2 separate regions of the Homo sapiens genome follow, and region 1 is reported to be linked to region 2. The links are microRNA targets in miRTarBase. Many come from high-throughput screens and were not tested one by one. Region 2 holds a microRNA gene; the other region holds the end of a gene's coding sequence.
Evidence for each region. Region 2 holds the annotated microRNA hsa-miR-6794-5p (CAGGGGGACUGGGGGUGAGC, at 4,757-4,776, opposite strand). A microRNA usually pairs through its seed, bases 2 to 8, with sites in the 3' UTR of a target mRNA and lowers its output. Matches are read on the target gene's strand: a 7mer-m8 pairs with bases 2 to 8, a 7mer-A1 pairs with bases 2 to 7 and ends in A, and an 8mer does both.

Region 1: miRTarBase lists CERS2 as a target of hsa-miR-6794-5p. Seed matches in the 3' UTR shown: 7mer-m8 at 7,929-7,935.

What each region holds. Positions count from the first base shown.
Region 1 is chr1:150,957,541-150,966,616 of GRCh38, forward strand. It overlaps CERS2 (ceramide synthase 2), which reads right to left. Exons shown (of 11, transcript NM_022075.5): 10 at 8,936-9,076; 11 at 7,646-8,748. The coding sequence ends at 8,608. SETDB1 (SET domain bifurcated histone lysine methyltransferase 1) reads left to right here. Exons shown (of 22, transcript NM_001366418.1): 15 at 1,638-1,807; 16 at 3,023-3,651; 17 at 4,590-4,618; 18 at 5,047-5,179; 19 at 5,434-5,599; 20 at 5,990-6,201; 21 at 6,455-6,543; 22 at 6,707-7,197. The coding sequence ends at 6,824. Among named protein-coding and RNA genes, the nearest start is that of CERS2, 13 kb to the right of the region's middle. RefSeq lists enhancers at 7,241-7,385, 7,878-8,022 and cis regulatory regions at 7,313, 7,949.
Region 2 is chr19:12,847,600-12,857,040 of GRCh38, reverse strand. MIR6794 (microRNA 6794) reads right to left here and starts at 4,781; the gene lies at 4,714-4,781. It overlaps MAST1 (microtubule associated serine/threonine kinase 1), which reads right to left. Exons shown (of 26, transcript NM_014975.3): 6 at 9,354-9,429; 7 at 8,984-9,193; 8 at 5,006-5,107; 9 at 4,794-4,926; 10 at 4,646-4,713. RefSeq lists enhancers at 4,352-4,852, 8,485-9,308, a silencer at 9,178-9,357 and a cis regulatory region at 9,030-9,441.

The sequences.
Region 1 (9,076 bases), not on the chromosome of region 2:
ATACCAAGAAAATAAGTAAAATTCTAACACTGGGCAAATAGAGCAAAAACATTGTTACCTGAAACAATTAGTTTTCTTAGTATAACTGTGTTATCTTCCTTTAATGTTGGTATGTGCTAGATCCCTCTGATTACCTTTAATGGTTGTTTAAAAATAATTAAAATTTTTTTCTTTTTCAGAGATGGGGTGGACTTGCTTTGTCATTCAGGCTGGAGCGCAGTGGTATGATCATAGCTCACTGAAACCTCGAACTCCTGAGCTCAAGTGATCTTCTCACCTCAGCATCCTCAGTAGCTGGGATTACAGGCATGAGCCACTGCGCCTGGCCCAAATTCTTAAATTAGATAGAATATGAGCTCCCCTGGGCTGGGCACGGTGGCTCACACCTGTACTCCCAGCCCTTTGGTTCGCTAAGGCAGGCGGATCACATGAGGTCGGGAATTCGAGACCAGCCTGATCAACATGGATAAACTCCATCTCTACTAAAAATACAAAATTAGCAAGGCACGGTGGCGCGTGCCTGTAATCTCAGCTACTTGGGAGGCTGAGGCAGGAGAATCACTTGAACACGGGAGGTGGAGGTTGTGAGCTGAGATTGCGCCATTGCACTCCAGCCTGGGCAATGAGAGCGAAACTCTGTCTCCAAAAAAAAAAAAAAGAGCTCCCTGAGGGTAGAAATTATGACCTTTTTTTTTTTCTTTTTTTTCTTTTTTCTTTTTTTTTTTTTTTGTGACAGAGTCTCACCCTGTCGCCCAGATTGGAGTGCAGTGGCTTGATTTTGGCTCACTGCAACCTCCGCCTCCTGGGTTCAAGGAATTCTCCTACCTCAGCCTCCCAAGTAGCTGGGACTACAGATGCATGCCACCACACCCGGCTAATTTTTTAATTTTTATTAGAGACGGGGTTTTACTGTGTTAGCCAGGATGGTCTCACTCTCCTGACCTCGTGATCCACCCACCTTGGCCTCCCAAAGTGCTGGGATTATAGGCATGAGCCACCACGCCCAGCACGATCTTTTTCATTGTTATGTTTCCAGTGTTTAGTAGAGCTCTTGGTGTTTAATAATTGTTTACTGAATGAAAGAATGAAAATCAACTTTACCATGAACATTAGTCACAGTTCCTCCTATCTCTTTATTCCCTTTCGTATCTGTTATGTTGGCCTCTGTTTTTCTCACATTTATTTATTTTTATTATTATTATTATTTTTGCTGTTGTTAGTAAGAAACCTCACCAGGAATTTCTCACATGTCTTTATTTTGTGCATCTATTTCTACAAATTGACCGTCCATATAGTGCTTATTTTAATGGCTCTGTAATCTGTATTCCCATTATAGTTTACTTAGCTTTTCTCCAGGTGTTAGGCACTCTAGCATTCACTTTTATGAGCTGTCTTGCTATAGACATCTTTATAAATATTTCTCCGCCCTCTAAATTTTTTCCTTGGGCTACATTTCCAAATGAATCAAAGAGCATAGATGGTTCAATAGATCCACTCACTTAGATCATTACCTAATTTTTAATCTTTATCCACAACACATTATAAATGATGATAGCTTAAGAATTATAATAGTTTTATGGATTTTTTTGTGCTCTAGTGATCATACCGTGATTGATTTTATTCTAACCTCCTCCCAGGGTATATGAGTGTAACAAACGCTGCAAATGTGACCCAAACATGTGCACAAACCGGTTGGTGCAACATGGACTACAAGTTCGGCTACAGCTATTCAAGACACAGAACAAGGGCTGGGGTATCCGCTGCTTGGATGACATTGCCAAAGGCTCTTTTGTTTGTATTTATGCAGGTTGGTGATAAAATATAAGGGTTGTTTCCTGAGACTGGGACATGGTAGGGAATTGAACCAGAGACAAATTGAACATAAGAAGAAAGTGCTTGACATGTGAACTGGAGTAAGAGGAGGCCAGGGACTTCTACAAAGAACGTGATGAGTGATGTACCTGTCTAGCTAGACCAGAGAGGGACACAAGTGTTTCACAAATAAGAGAATGAAAAGGGATGAAATTTTGGACATGGTGATATTTCAGAGAACAGACATGATTATAGAGTCCAGTGTATCATTTTCTCCCATGTCACTCCACTCAGAGATCTTTTAGCATAGCCCAGTACTCTGTTTCAATAAAGTAGAAGAAATGGAAAGACAGAAAGGGCAAGATTTAAAATGACAGTAAGTTCTCCATACTTTCATAGTTAAGATACAAAGGGAGGTATTATCAAAGAGAAACACTGGGCCGGCGTGGTGGCTCATGCCTGTAATCCCAAAACTTTGGGAGGCCGAAGTGGGTGGATCACCTGAGGTCAGGAGTTGGAGACCAGCCTGGCCAACATAGTTGAAACCCCATCTCTACTAAAAATACAAAAATTAGCCAGGTGTGGTGGTGGATGCCTGTAATCCCAGCTACTTGGGAGGCTGAGGCAGGAGAATCACTTGAACCCTTGAGGCAGAGATTGCAGTGAGCCGAGATCATGCCACTGCACTCCAGCCTGGGTGACAAAAGCGAAACTCTGTCTCAAAAACAAAACAAAAAAAAAAACAGAAATGAGAGACCAGAATGGAGGCTTTTTGACTCTATATGCTGGTAGAGCGGGTATTGATGGAATAATCCTTATTCTTTCTAATAGGTCCCCGTGGCCGGGTGCGGTGGCTAACACCTGTAATCCCAACACTGTGGGAGGCTGAGGCGGGCAGATCACCTGAGGTCAGGAGTTCGAGACCAACCTGGCCAACATGGTGAAACGCCATCTCTACCAAAAATACAAAAAAAATTAGCCAGGCATGGTGGCGTGCACCTGTAGTCCTATCTACTCAGGAGGCTAAGGCAGGAGAATCACTTGAACCTGGGAGGCAGAGGTTGCAGTGAGCCGAGATCGCGCCACTGCACTCCAGCCTGGGTGACAGAGCAAGACTCCATCTGGAAAAAAAAAAAAAAAAAAGCAAACAAAAAAAAAAACTAATAGGTCCCCATAACCCTAGAAGGCCTTTAATTCTCTTCATTCTCAGGCAAAATCCTGACAGATGACTTTGCAGACAAGGAGGGTCTGGAAATGGGTGATGAGTACTTTGCAAATCTGGACCATATCGAGAGCGTGGAGAACTTCAAAGAAGGATATGAGAGTGATGCCCCCTGTTCCTCTGACAGCAGTGGTGTAGACTTGAAGGACCAGGAAGATGGCAACAGCGGTACAGAGGACCCTGAAGAGTCCAATGATGATAGCTCAGATGATAACTTCTGTAAGGATGAGGACTTCAGCACCAGTTCAGTGTGGCGGAGCTATGCTACCCGGAGGCAGACCCGGGGCCAGAAAGAGAACGGACTCTCTGAGACAACTTCCAAGGACTCCCACCCCCCAGATCTTGGACCCCCACATATTCCTGTTCCTCCCTCAATCCCTGTAGGTGGCTGCAATCCACCTTCCTCCGAAGAGACACCCAAGAACAAGGTGGCCTCATGGTTGAGCTGCAATAGTGTCAGTGAAGGTGGTTTTGCTGACTCTGATAGCCATTCATCCTTCAAGACTAATGAAGGTGGGGAGGGCCGGGCTGGGGGAAGCCGAATGGAGGCTGAGAAGGCCTCCACCTCAGGACTAGGCATCAAGGATGAGGGAGACATCAAACAGGCCAAGAAAGAGGTAAGCAGTGGCAGAACACTCTGAGAGCTATGGCTTTAACTTTGGTGCAGTAACAATGCAGTCTCACCATGAGTCTTTGCATGTAGATTATTCTACTTGATGGATATTTCTGTGGCCACCTCGTTATCTCTCCCCCTAACTAGCACATTCCTAGTGTTTGTTTAAAGAACCAAATTATTGACCGGGCACAGTGGCTCACACCTGTAATCCCAACACTTTGGGAGGCCGAGGCAGGTGGATAACTTGAAGTTCAGGAGTTGGAGACCATCCTGGCCAACATGGTGAAACCCCGTCTCTACTAAAAAATACAAAAATTAGCCGGGCGTGGTGGTGCATGCCTGTATTTCCAGCTACTTGGGAGGCTGAGGCAGGAGAATCGCTTGAACCTGGAGGGTGGAGGTGCAGTGAGCCGAGATCGCACCACTGCACTCCAGCCTGGGTGACAGAACGAGACTCTGTCTCAAAAAAAAAAAAATTATTTTAAAATCCACTTGCCTGGTGGTAGAGGGTGGACAAGTATCTGATTAATTACAAAATGAAAGATTTATAAGTGATTTTTTAATGTTAAATGCTGTTTCAAGTTATTCACATCATTGTTTCCTTCTACTAAAGTAGAGAAACAAGAATTGATTTTAAGTATCTCTTTGATGATTATGCTGCTTTCCACATTACAGATGGTGAAACTGTCCCTGGTTGATGTAATCCTGCTCGTGGTGTTTTCCATGAGCATTAAGCCCCATCACTGAGAAGGCTTAAAGGCTCCAGCCAGGGAGTGTAGTGAGGATTTCTGTCAAGTTGCAGAGTGGTTTACCCACCCCACTTTAGAATGTGTACCTGTCACTGGCTGATGTTATCTGTGGAGGTCATTTGAAGTCTGATTATTGGACTTGTTACCCGAGGCTGTGAAAGCATTTAACCCTTCACTTGTTCTTTTCCAGGACACTGACGACCGAAACAAGATGTCAGTGTAAGTGCCTTTTGTTTTGTTTTGTTTTGAGACAGAGTCTTGCTTTGTCACCCAGGCTGGAGTGCAGTGGCGTAATCTCAGCTCATTGCAACCTCCCCCTCCCAGGCTCAAGAGATTCTCCCACCTCAGCCTCCCTAGTAGCTGGGACTACGGGTGTGCACCACCATGCCTGGCTAGTTTTTGTATTTTTTGTAGACACGGGGTTTCACCATGTTTCCCAGACTGGTCTTGAACTCCTGGGCTCAAGCGATGCTCCCAAAGGGGATCCTCAGCCTCCCAAAGTGCTGGGATTACAGCCATGAGCTACCGTGTCCAGCCCAGTGCCTGTCTTTTTGACCTGTCTCCAAATCTGCCTTCTCTCAAACCTAGGCTAGAAGCCTAAGAAACAGCCAGTAACCTGTTGGCTTCATTCCTTCCCCTCCCATTAGAGTTACTGAAAGCTCTCGAAATTACGGTTACAATCCTTCTCCTGTGAAGCCTGAAGGACTTCGCCGCCCACCTAGTAAGACTAGTATGCATCAAAGCCGAAGACTCATGGCTTCTGCTCAGTCCAACCCTGATGTAAGTCACCTCAAGCTTATTCAGAGTCTAATAAAGGAAAATGGGCCATTGTCACCTCATCAAGTCCTTCACTATAATTACTGTTAGGTCTTCTCCTACTTCTTTAGCCTTGACTTCCTGCCTTATTTTCTTTCATCCAGCATCTAATCTTCCTCTTGCCACCGCCCTTTCCTGCCAAACCGTGGGTAACAGCAAGGACTTAAAGGAGCCCTTCCCATTTACTTCTCTTACTTCTTACCCTCCTGCTTCCCCAGGATGTCCTGACACTGTCCAGCAGCACAGAAAGTGAGGGGGAAAGTGGGACCAGCCGAAAGCCCACTGCTGGTCAGACTTCGGCTACAGCGGTTGACAGTGATGATATCCAGACCATATCCTCTGGCTCTGAAGGGGATGACTTTGAGGACAAGAAGAACATGACTGGTAGCCTGGAAAAATTTTGGGAATGGTGGGAAGAAATAGTAAGAAACTTGGGATAGAGCATTTTTTAAGGAAGCTAAAGAAGTAGTGGGTAAAAATTCAGATCCTAAGAATTGGAGCATCTCTGGGAGGGCTTTCTGACTCCAAGCTAAACTATTGTTTGACACATCCTCTCTCATTTCCATTTTTTTACTCTTTCCCCTCAGCTCCTTTGTCTAGCAGATCTAATTATGCTTGAAAAAAAAACCTGCTACTTAGGATCTTTGAGTTCCAGCTTATTGGTGTTTCTCAGCTGCAATGTTGGGAGAGAAATAGGGGTAGAATGTCCATTCATGATAGAATGTCTGTTCATGAGTTGGGATGGGTCCTGACCCCATTCTCCCTCCTGTCCAGGTCCAATGAAGCGTCAAGTGGCAGTAAAATCAACCCGAGGCTTTGCTCTTAAATCAACCCATGGGATTGCAATTAAATCAACCAACATGGCCTCTGTGGACAAGGGGGAGAGCGCACCTGTTCGTAAGAACACACGCCAATTCTATGATGGCGAGGAGTCTTGCTACATCATTGATGCCAAGCTTGAAGGCAACCTGGGCCGCTACCTCAACGTGAGACCCCTCTCCCCACCTCTAGATGCTGGATTATCCCATGGTCCTCAGATTTCTTTTAACATACTCTATAAGCCCTTTTCTTGTTATAAACTCTTGATCTCAAAGGATCTTAAAGAGGTAGCTTTCTTTCAAAGCATCTATTATAATGGGGAGGGTCAGATGGCATCATTTTTCTTCCAACTCTCACTCTCCCTGCAAAGCCAGGTTCAGTTTCCCTGGTTCTTATTTGATCCTGTCCTTAAACCTACAGCACAGTTGCAGCCCCAACCTGTTTGTCCAGAATGTCTTCGTGGATACCCATGATCTTCGCTTCCCCTGGGTGGCCTTCTTTGCCAGCAAGTAAGGAGTCAGGAAAGGGGATGACTGGGGAGGGGCAAGGACCACTGAAGTTCTAAGGGCCCCTCCTCCATTCATGATCCAACTCCACCTACATATTCAGTAACCCCAAGTGCCTGGGTTATCTGCTGTCTTTGCCACACACCATCCTTTTCTTCCTCTTCAGAAGAATCCGGGCTGGGACAGAACTTACTTGGGACTACAACTACGAGGTGGGCAGTGTGGAAGGCAAGGAGCTACTCTGTTGCTGTGGGGCCATTGAATGCAGAGGACGTCTTCTTTAGAGGACAGCCTTCTTCCCAACCCTTCTTGAACTGTCGTTTCCTCAGGAACTGGGTCTTCCTGATTGTTGAACCCTGACCCGAAGTCTCTGGGCTAGCTACTCCCCCCAGCTCCTAGTTGATAGAAATGGGGGTTCTGGACCAGATGATCCCTTCCAATGTGGTGCTAGCAGGCAGGATCCCTTCTCCACCTCCAAAGGCCCTAAAGGGTGGGGAGAGATCACCACTCTAACCTCGGCCTGACATCCCTCCCATCCCATATTTGTCCAAGTGTTCCTGCTTCTAACAGACTTTGTTCTTAGAATGGAGCCTGTGTATCTACTATCTCCAGTTTGTATTATTTCTTGAAAGTCTTTTAACAATATGATAAAACTAAGATTGTGGTTTTGTTTCTCTCTCTCAGCCCGATACTCCCAATTCTGGATCTTTCAGTGAGGTATTATCCCCATCCTCCCCTGTGGGCTGCTGTCATTCATCTTCTACCTTGTCTACCTTTGCTTCTTGCATGTGAATTTTTTTAGATGGAGTTCTCGCTCTGTCACCCAGGCTGGAGTGCAATGGTGCAATCTCGACTCACTGCAGCCTCCGCCTCCCGGGTTCAGGTGATTCTCCTGCCTCAGCCTCCTAAGTAGCTGAGATTACAGTCGCCCGCCACCACACCCAGCTAGATGTATTTTTAGTAGAGATGGGGTTTCGCCATGTTGGCCAGGCTGGTCTCAAACTCCTGACCTCTAGTGATCCACCCTCCTTGGCCCCTCAAAGTGCTCAAATTACATGCATGTGAAATTTAAAAAAGAAAATATTACATAACTGCAAGGAAGGCATAAGAAAGACTCTCTTCGTTTATTTAGTTGATCCCCCTTCTCAATTCCTAATAGTCTGACACTTATTGCCATGTTTTATTTAATATTTTTTATTTAATCTTTTAATTTTTAAAAAAAACCCATTAACAGTACATTTTGGTCTAAAATGGTCCCTCTGCTGAAATGCTAGGTGCTAGCCGTAATTCTGGCTTTAAAACCAAAACCCCAAATATTTAATAAATAAAAATTAGAATTAGTTGCCATTCTACTCCAAACCAGCTAGCCTAGCTGAAGAGAAGAGGGAAGGGGGAAGAGGCCAGAGAAAGGAGGAGGCAGTCAGATCTTAGACCTGTCGCTACAGGGACAGCTGAAAGAAGTAGCACTAAGAAAGATCATCCGAGCAGTCCCCAGTACAGCCCCCACTTTTTGGCAGAGGTAGGGTAAGGGTTATGTGCACCCTCCTCCTACCCTCAATTCATTTGTGTCATAGAGGGAGAAAGTTAAAAGCTCAGCTTTGGTTTCTGGCCCAAGTTAGGGAGCTTAGAAAGGTTAGCCTTGGTCCAGCTTTGGCAGAATGAGGCCCACAGATGGGACAATAAGGCACAACCCTGGCTCTGGAGGTCAGGGAGTCAAAGGCAAACAGCTGGGGCCAAATTCTCAGAATAAGGAATGTGAATTGTAACCCCTACCCACAGAGAGCTGAGGGAGGGCCTCAAAAGCAGTAGAAAGGATGACTTGGCGGGTAGGGAGGAAAATACGACCGTCCCCCTCTAACAGAATATAACCAACGTCCCCCTACCTGGGGATAGGCTGGTTAGAATTTGGTTTAAAGGCAACTGGGTGACAAGCAAGGAGGGAGGATGCAGAGAACTCTCCTCTCACTTTCTCCTTTTTCCCCAGAGCTTAAAGTGACCCTATAGCGCAGGGAGCGGGGTAGTTCCTTGGCTTTATGCATTAATCTGGGAGGCAGCTGGAGTAATGGTTCAGTCATTCTTACGATGGTTGTTATTGAGGATGGGGTGGCCATTGGCTAGGGGCCGGCTCTTTGCTCCTCCCCCAGCTGCAGCCTCCTCCCCCTCTGAGCTCTCTGTTTCTTCCCGGTCACTGCGTTCATCTTCTACCAGCTGTGGAAAAGGGACAAGAAGGGTTATTACATGAGATCCTCAAACCCCTAAGTACTGCTTCTCTCTGAGGGCTTGTTCCTGTTATACCCAGGGCTCCACACTAGTTTTTTAGAGAGTTACTGGCAAGATGGGAGTTCAGGAAGTTGTAGAGAGTAGTAAGGCCTACACAATGGGAACAGGGCTTCACCTTTCCAGTTATGAACTTGTGGGCCATGCGCAAAATGAGGTAGGCCCAGAAGATATGCAGCAGCTGTAGAACTCCCATCATGGAATTGAAGAAGTAATAGCCAAAGAAGGCAGGATAGAGCTCCAGTGGGTACACCAGGGT
Region 2 (9,441 bases):
AAATACCATTTTTCACCTAGCAGATTGGGAGAAAAAACTCCAAAACCTGATATCCTCTATGGGCAAATATGTAGGTGAACATATATACTTTGCTGTTGGGAGTGTAAATTACTGTTTGATACAGATCAGAATTACAAATACATGTTCCCTTTGACTCAGCAATTTTACTTTTGAATTTATGCTACAGATATACTTGCACATGTGAAAAATGGTATATCTACTATCTTGCTCATTGTGAGATTGGAAATAATAATCCATACGTTAAATTAGCCAAACAAACACATGTGGGGTAGTTAGATAAAGAAACATTGTGCCACTGTTAGAAATAATGAGGAAACTCTCTGTCTATGGATTTAGAAAGTCCTCTATTTTATTAAGTGTAAAAATGCAATAGGCAATATGTATTGTACGTTTATGTGCAAAAAAATGTGGCAAAGGCCAGGTGTGGTGGCTCACACCTGCAATCCCAGCACTTTGGGAGGCCAAGGCAAGTGGATCACCTGAAGGTCAGGAGTTCGAGACCAGCCTGGCCAACATGGTGAAACCCTGTCTCTATTAAAAATACAAAAACTTAGCCAGGCGTGGTGGTGGTTGCCTATAATCCCAGCTGCTTGGAAGGCTGAAGCAGGAGAACCACTTGAACCCAGGAAGCAGAGGTTGCAGTGAGCCGAGATCACACTGTTGCACTCCAGCCTGGGCAACAAGAGTGGAACTTTGTCTAAAAAAAAAAAAAAAAGTGGCAAAATAAAACTATGTAATCATATTTCAGGGCTATAGGGCAATGGGGAAAAAAGGTAGGAGTAAGATTTTTTTCACTGTATATCTTTCTTGAAAATTATTTTGATTTTTCTTAGGGACAAAGAGATTTATTACATAGATATTACATAAAAAGATCTATGATATATAAAAATATTGAACTTATATGCTCCAAAGAATGTAGCCTAAAAATATCTGACATAAAAATTGACAGAATTGGGCAGAGTGTAAGAGGTATCTTATGCTGTATTTTTCCTTTATTGTTTGCAATACTTCGCACACTATTGTATGGAACTCTTACCTATAATCAAATAAAAACCAAAATGGCAAAAAAAAAAAAAAAATTGACAGAATTACAAGGAGAATTTGCTTAAAATAAGGTTTCACATTTCTCTCAGAAACTATTAGATTAATCAGGCAAGATAAATGAATAGGGAGATGGAAGATTTGAATCACTCAATTAACAAGTTTGATTAAAAGGAATAACAGAATCCTACAAACAATGAGAGATAAATACCTTTTTTTAGAGTTTTAGATTTTGAGTGATGTCATTCCATTACCTATTCAAAAAATTAAACAAATGGCATATATTGTGAGATTCCTTTTAAATATATACATAAAGGAAAGGTATGTGTATATATCTGTGTGACTGTATAGACACAATTTGAAATAAAGATTACAAACTTAAGCGTCTTCAGGGGCCAGTAGACCAGGGTGGAGGCCATGGATGACGAAGGGGCAGGTACCCAATATCACAGGACCACCCCCACTCAGCTGGTTCCACCACAGTATTATTAGAACTTCTTCTTCTTCTATTTTTTTTTAAGTAGAGACAGGGTCTTGCTATGTTGTCCAGACTGGTTTCAAACTCCTGGGCTCAAGCAATCCTGCCACCTTGGCTTCCCAAAGTGCTGGGACTACAGGCATGAGCCACTACACCCAGCCCTAGAACTTCTGATTTTTCAAGAGAAGGCCCAAACCCAGATTTTGAAGCAAAAATCTTTCAATTTTTATATTTTGCTTCTTTTATTTATCTATTTTTATTTTTTTCAAGATGGAGTCTCACTCTCTCACCCAGGCTGGAGTGCAGTGGTTTGATATCGGCTCACTGCAATCTTTGTCTCCCTGGTTCCAGCAGTTCTCCTGCCTCAGCCTCCCAAGTAGCTGGGATTACGGGTGGGCACCACCACACCTGGCTAATTTTATGTATTTTTTTAGTAGAGACAGGGTTTCACCATGTTGGCCAGGCTGGTCTCGACTTCCTGACCTCAAGTGATCCACCCGCCGCAGTCTCTCAAAGTGCTGGGATTACAGCCGTGAGCCATCAGGCCCAGCCCAAATTTTTGAAAAATACTAGGCAGTTCAGAGAAAACACATGTGTGGCCATTGGGGTAGGACTCTCCACTAGACATCTGGAACATCTGCCAAAGTGTGGCTGGCCTGGGAATAGAATTGGCAATTTTCCCCATGCTGAGCTGCCATTAACACATACAGCCAGTTAGCTTGCTCGAAAGCCCATGCAGGATTCCTCTATAAGTTAAACATAGAGCTACCATATGACCAAGAAATTCCACCTCTAGACGTATATCCTAAATAACTCAAAGCAGTTGTCCAGCCAAATATTTGTACACCCACATTCATAAGAGCACTATTTACAACAGATGAAAGATGGACAACCCAATGTTCACCAGTGGATGAATGCATCTACCATTCAATGGAATATTACTCGGCTATAAAAATGAATGAAGCAGTGACACAAGCTACAACATGGATAAACCTCAGAAACGTTATGTTAAGTGAAATAAGCCAGTCATAAGAGGCCACAGAGCATACGATCCCATTTATAGGAAATATCCAGAAAAAGGCCAGGCATGTGGCTCACGCCTGTAATCGCAGCACTTTGGGAGGCCAAGGCAGGCAGATCACCTGAGGTCAGGAGTTCGAGACCAGCCTGACCAACATGGTGAAACCCTGTCTTTACTAAAAATACAAAATTAGCCAGGTGTGGTGGCGCATGCCTATAATCCCAGCTACTCAGGAGGCTGAGGGAGGAGAATTGCTTGAACCTGGGAGGCGGAGGTTGCAGTGAGCCGAGATCACGCCATTGCACTCCAGCCTGGGCAACAAGAGTGAAATTCTGTCTCAAAAAAAAAAAAAAAAAGAAATATCCAGAAAAAGCAATTCCACAGAGAGAGAAAATAGATTAGTGGTTGCCAGGGACTGCAGGGAGGGAGGAATGAGGAGGGAGTGTGTAATGGGTGTGAGGTTTCCCTTTGGGGGTGATAAAAAAGTTCTGCAACTACATAGATCTAATGGCTGTACAGCATGGTGAATTACTAAATGCTGCAGAATTGTTTATTTATTACTATTAATCATTATTATTATTATTATTATTATTATTATTATTATTATTTTGAGACAGAGTCTCGCTCTGTTGCCCAGGCTGGAGTGCAGTGGTGGGATCTTGGCTCACACCAACCTCCACCTCCCGGGTTCAAGCAATTCTCCTGCCTCAGCCTTCCAAGTAGCTGGGATTACAGGCATGTGCCACCACGCCCAACTAATTTTTTTGTATTTTTAGTGGAAATGGGGTTTCACCATGTTGGCCAGGCTGGTTTCGAATTCCTGACCTCAAGTGATCCACCCATCTTGGCCTCCCAAAGTACTAGGATTACATGCATAAGCCATTGCACCTGGCCTATTCTTTATTATTTTTAATTTCATTTTTCAAGACAGGGTCTCACCCTGTTGCCCAGGCTGGAGTGCAGTGGTGTGATCATGGCTTACTGAAGCCTTGACTTCCTGGGCTCATAGGATCCTCCCACCTCAGCCTCCCGAGTAGCTGGGACTACAGGGGTGCACCACCACGCCCAGCTGATTTTTTATGCTGCCCAGGCTGGTCTCAAATGCCTTAGCACAAACAATCCTCCTGCCTTGGCCTCCCAAAGTGCTGGGATTACAGGCCTAAGCCACTGCACCCGGCCCCGAATTGTTCATTTTAAAATGGTTAAAAAGGCCGGGCGCGGTGGCTCATGCCTGTAATCCCAGCACTTTGGGAGGCCGAGATGGGCAGATCAACTGAGATTGGGAGTTTGCAACCAGCCTGACCAACATGGAGAAATTTTAGTCTCTACTAAAAATACAAAATTAGCCGGGTGTGGTGTTACATGCCTGTAATCCCAGCTACTCGGGAGGCTGAGGCAGGAGAATTGCTTGAACCCAGGAGATGGAGGTTGTGGTGAGCTGAGATAGTGCCATTGCACTCCAGCCTGGGCAACAAGAGCAAAACTCCATCTCAAAAAATAAATAAATAAATAAATAAAAATAAAATAAAATGGTTAAAAAAGTAAATTAAATTTTATGTTTCATGGATTTTAACATGACAAAGAGGTCACAGGGGAAGAGCAATTATTTTATTTTATTTTATTTTATTTTTTGAGACAGTTTCGCTCTTGTTGCCCAGGCTGGAGTGCAGTGGTGTAATCTCAGTTCACAGCAATCTCTGCCTCCTGGATTCAAGTGATTCTTCTGCCTCAGCCTCACAAGTAGCTGGGATTAGAGGCATGTGCCACCAGGCTTGGCTAATTTTTGCATTTTTTTTTTTTTTAAGTAGAAACGGGGTTTCTCCATGTTGGTTAGGCTGGTCTCGAACTCCCGACCTCAGGTGATCTGCCCACCTTGGCCTCCCAAAGTGCTGGGATTACAGGCATGAGCCAGCATGCCAGGCTCTGGAAGAGCTATTATTAATCCCATTTTATGGATGGGAAAACTGAGGCTCAGAGTGTAGGACCAAGAGATCCACAAAGCCTGAGGGCAAAGAAGCCGGAGATGAGCCCCACCCTGCCCTCCCAGGAACCAGGGTACTGACCGCTTAGCCACCCAGCCTTACCTCAGAGAGATCGTCTTGCTCAGGGGTGTTGGAACCACCACTGTCCTGTTCCTCCAGATGCACCACATCTAGGGAGGGACTGAGAGTGAGCACGAGCTGGGTTCTGGGCCTGCTCACCCCCAGTCCCCCTGCGCCCACCAGCCGGCACCTGGAAAGGGGTCACGGGTGAGGCCCAGCTGGCGGATGATGTAGCGGGGGATGTCCGTCTTCACAAGGTGGCCCTCCTTGGCGTGTCCTTCGGCCGCCTCCAGCAGGTGGTAGAACTCCTCGGGGTTGAATTCCTGAGGCAGGGCAGGAGTGGGCTCACCACAGGCTCCCAGGGTCTACCAACCCACCCCTACCCATGCCCAGCCCCCTCACCAGGCACTCCAGCAGCCTCGCAGGGCGTGAGATGATAATAAGCAACTTCTTCACCAGCTGAGTAACGAAGGCCACCTCCAAGCTCTCAGAGCGTTCATAGGCCTGTGGCAGGGGACACAGAGGGACAGGGCTCATAGGCACTCTGCCTCAGCCCGGCCCCTCTCTCAGCCCCTCAGAGTACATACTGCTGCTACTGTCCCATCTTACAGGTGAGGAGACTGAAGCCCAAGCCACACAGTAAAAATAATGAGGCTGGGCACGGTGGCTCATGCCTGTAATCCCAGCACTTTGGGAGGCTGAGGTGGGTGGATCACTTGAGGTCAAAAGTTTGAAACCAGCCTGGCCAACATGGTGAAACCCCATCTCCACTAAAAACGCAAAATGAGCCAGGCGTGGTGGCAGGTGCCTGTAATCCCAGCTACTTGGGAGGCTGAAGCAGGAGAATCCCTTGAACCTGGGAGGCAGAAGTTGCAGTGAGCCAAGATCACACCACTGCACTCCAGCCTGGGTGACACAGCGAGACTCTGTCTCAAAACAAAAGCAATGACAAACAAACAAACAAACAACAAAACCATAGCGAGACCCTGTCTCTACAAATAATAAAATTAGCCAGGTGTGGTAGTGTGTGCCTGTAGTCCTAGCTACCTGGGAGGCTGAAGTGGGAGAATTACTTGAGCCCAGGGGGCTAAGGCTGCAGTGAGCTGATTATACCACTGCACTCCTGCCTGGGTGACAGAGAGAGAGACCCTGTCTCAAAAAAAAAAAAAGAAAAAAAGAAAAGAAAAAGAGGCCGGGCACAGTGGCTCACGCCTGTAATCCCAGCATTTTGGGAGGCAGAGGAGGGTGAATTACTTGAGGTCAGGGGTTTGAGACCAGCCTGCCCAACATGGCAAAACCCCATCTCTACTGGAAGTACAAAAATTAGCTGGGTATAGTGCCACACACTTGTAATGCCAGCTACTTGGGAGGCTGAGGCAAGAGAATCGCTTGAACCAGGGAGGTGGAGGTTGCAGTGAGCCGAGATCACATCACTACACTCCAGCCTGGGTAGCAGAGTGAGACTGTCTCAAAAAAAAAAAAAAAGAAAAGAAAAAACTAATATCTTATTGCAATACTTGAAAAGCCTAAAATTAATGCCAAAAATCTATCATAAGCCAAAATATCAAAATTTAAGCCAGATGTGGTGGTACATGCCTATAATCCCAGCTACTCAGGAGGCTGAGGCAGGAGGATTGCTTGAGCCCAGGAGTTCAAGACCACCCTGGGCAACATAGAGAGTCCTCCATCTCAAATGAAAAAGAAAAAGAAAAAGAAAATTAAATAAAGACAGAATCCAACAGGCTGTGCCTAGCCATATTGTAACTTGAGCCAAAAAAAAGTATGCACCAACCTATATGTGTTTTAATGTGTCTTTGAAAATGTCTAATGGTTTCAATGAAAATAGTATTATTGATGAGTTTGCTTTCATTAAAACCAGGACAGTAAAATTATAACACATTCTGGCTTGGTTATAAATAAAATATGTAAACTTAAAATAATGTTGGGTTTTCATTTATCTACTTTTCAAGTTTTTCAAAAATTAATTTAATGTTCTGGGGGAAGAAATAATTACTTGCTTTACCCTGGTCCTGGTCTCAGCCCTAATACCTATTGGGTCTTTGTTTGTTTGACTTGTTTTACTGTAGAGACAGGGTCTCGCTATGTTACCCAGGCTGGTCTGCAACTCCTGGGCTCCAGAAAGCCTCCTGTCTCAGCTCCCCAAAGTGCTGGGATTACAGGGGTTAGCTTCTAACGCCTATTGTTTATCTTCTGTCTCTTCCTGCTATTAATAGAATGTCAGCTCTCCAAAGACAAGAATTTTTGTTTTATTTCCAGTTGATTTCCCAGCTTTTAGGCTAGTGCCAGGCCCATAGTAGGTGCTTAATAAATATTGGTGGGGGCCAGGCATGGTGGCTCACACCTGTAATCCCAGCACTTTGGGAGGCAGAGGCAGGTGGATCACCTAAGGTCAGGAGTTAGAGACCAGCCTGGCCAACATGGTGAAACCCTGCCTCGACTAAAAATACAAAAATTAGCCAGGCATGGTGGTGGGTGCCTGTGATCCCAGCTACTCGGGAGGCTGAGGCAGGAGAATGGCTTGAACCTGAGAGGTGGAGGTTGCAGTGAGCCAAAATCGCACCACTGCACTCCAGCCCAGTGGGATAGAGTGAGACTCTGTCTCCAAAAAAAATAAAATAAATAAATAAATAAATATTGGTGGAATTAATGAATGATCAAGTGATCCTCCTGCCTCAGCCTCTCAAGTAGCTGGGACAGCAGGTGTGTGCCACTACACCTAGCTAATTATTTTTATTTTTATTTTTATTTTTTTTGAGACAGAATCTCACTCTGTTGCCCAGGCTGGAGTGCAGTGGCGCAACCTCGGCTCACTGCAACCACTGCCTCCCGGATTCAAGCGATTCTCCTGCTTCAGCCTCCTGAGTAGCTGGGATTACAGGCACGTGCCACCAAGCCCGGCTAACTTTTTTGTATTTTTAGTAAAGACAGAGTTTCACCTTATTGGCCAGGCTGGTTTCAAACTCCTGACCTCGTGATCTGCTCGCCTCAGCCTCCCAAAGTGCTGGGATTAAAGGCGTGAGCAACCTCGCCTGGCTTAAATTTTTTAAATTGTTTTAGAGATGGGGTCCTGCTATGTTGCCCAAGCTGGTCTCAAGCTCCTGACCTCAAGCAATCCTCCCATCTCAGCCTCCTAAGTAGCTAGCTGGGACTACAGGTGCATGCCACTGCAAAGGGACATTCAAGCATCAATTTACCCAACATTTATTGAGTACCTACTGTGTGCTGGGTATTGTTCCAAACAGCAGGGACACAGCAGTGGACAGAACAGACAACTCCACCCCCCCACCCTCACCAACTATGGGGCTGACATTGGAGAAGGATAGACATGAAATAAAATAAGCAAAAATACACAGTATGATGGATGGTGCTGAGTGTCAAGGAGAAACTGAGGAGAAAGTGGGTGATAAATGTGAGTAGAGTTTAATATTTTATTTTATTTCATTTATTTATTTATTTTTGAGACAGAGTTTCACTCTTGTTGCTCAGACTGGAGTGCAATGGTGTGATCTCGGCTCACCGCAACCTCCGACTCCCAGGTTCAAGCGATTCTCCCGCCTCTGCCTCCCAAGTAGTTGGGATTACAGGCGCCCACCACCACGCCCAGCTAATTTTTGTATTTTTAGTAGAGACGGGGTTTCGCCATGTTGGCCAGGCTGGTCTCGAACTCCTGACCTCAGGTGATCCACTTGCCTCAGCCTCCCAGAGTGCTGGGATTACAGGCCTGAGCCACCGCACCCGGCTAAGTTTAATATTTTATTTTATTTTATTTTATTTACTATTATTATTTTTTGAGACGGAGTCTCGCTCTGTCGCCCAGGCTGGAGTACAGCGGCGCAATCTCGGCTCACTGCAAGCTCCGCCTCCCGGGTTTACGCCATTCTCCTGCCTCAGCCTCCCGAGTAGCTGGGACTACAGGCGTCCGCCACCACGCCCGGCTAATTTTGTGTGTGTGTGTGTTTTTAGTAGAGACGGGGTGTCACCGTGTTAGCCAGGATGGTCTCGATCTCTTGACCTCGTGATCCGCCCCCCTCGGCCTCCCAAAGTGCTGGGATTACAGGCCTGAGCCACCGAGCCCGGCCGAGTTTAATATTTTAAATGACTGGGGACCGCCTAAGAAGCCACCTGAAAAGGTGACATTTGAGTAAAGACCTAAGGGAAATGAGCGAGGTGAAATTCCTGCCTCTTCAGTCGGTCAGACCTAGGGAAGGGACCACTTCCACCCCTGAGTCCTCAGCTCCACGCCAGTGCCTGGAACGTGGTAGGAGCTCCCTGAATGTATGTGGGGTGAAGAAAGGGGTGCATTGGGCACAATCTGGCGGTGCTGAGCCTGAGATCAGCCCGGCCTCCGCGTGCACTCACGTCTTGAAGGAGCTTCTCCAGGTTCTCCTGCAATTCATAGAAGTAGACCGTGGTGATGAGGCCGTCACGGGACTTGGTCAGGCAGTCCCGGGCCAGCTCGATGATCTGGTGGTGGATGAAGCTGAGCACGCCATCGGCCAGAGGCAGAACGCTGTCGGGTTCGTAGGCGCGGGTAAAGTCGCGCAGCTTCTCCTCCATCTGCGCAGTGGCCTGCGGGAGGGACGGAGGAGGGGCGCGGGGCTGTGCCCGAAGGCTGCGGCCGCCAGGAGCCTGCGCTGCGCACCGAGGCCGCCAGGGGGCGCGCGGGGATAAGGCGAGCGAGAGTGCAGGCCGCCTGGTCACCCCGTGACCGCCTCGGGTCCCACCTCACCTTCGGGAACCTCTCCTTGTAGACGTGATTCATCATCACGATCTCGTTGTCGTAGGAGGAGGGGGAGCGCCCGGGGCTGCGGGGAGAG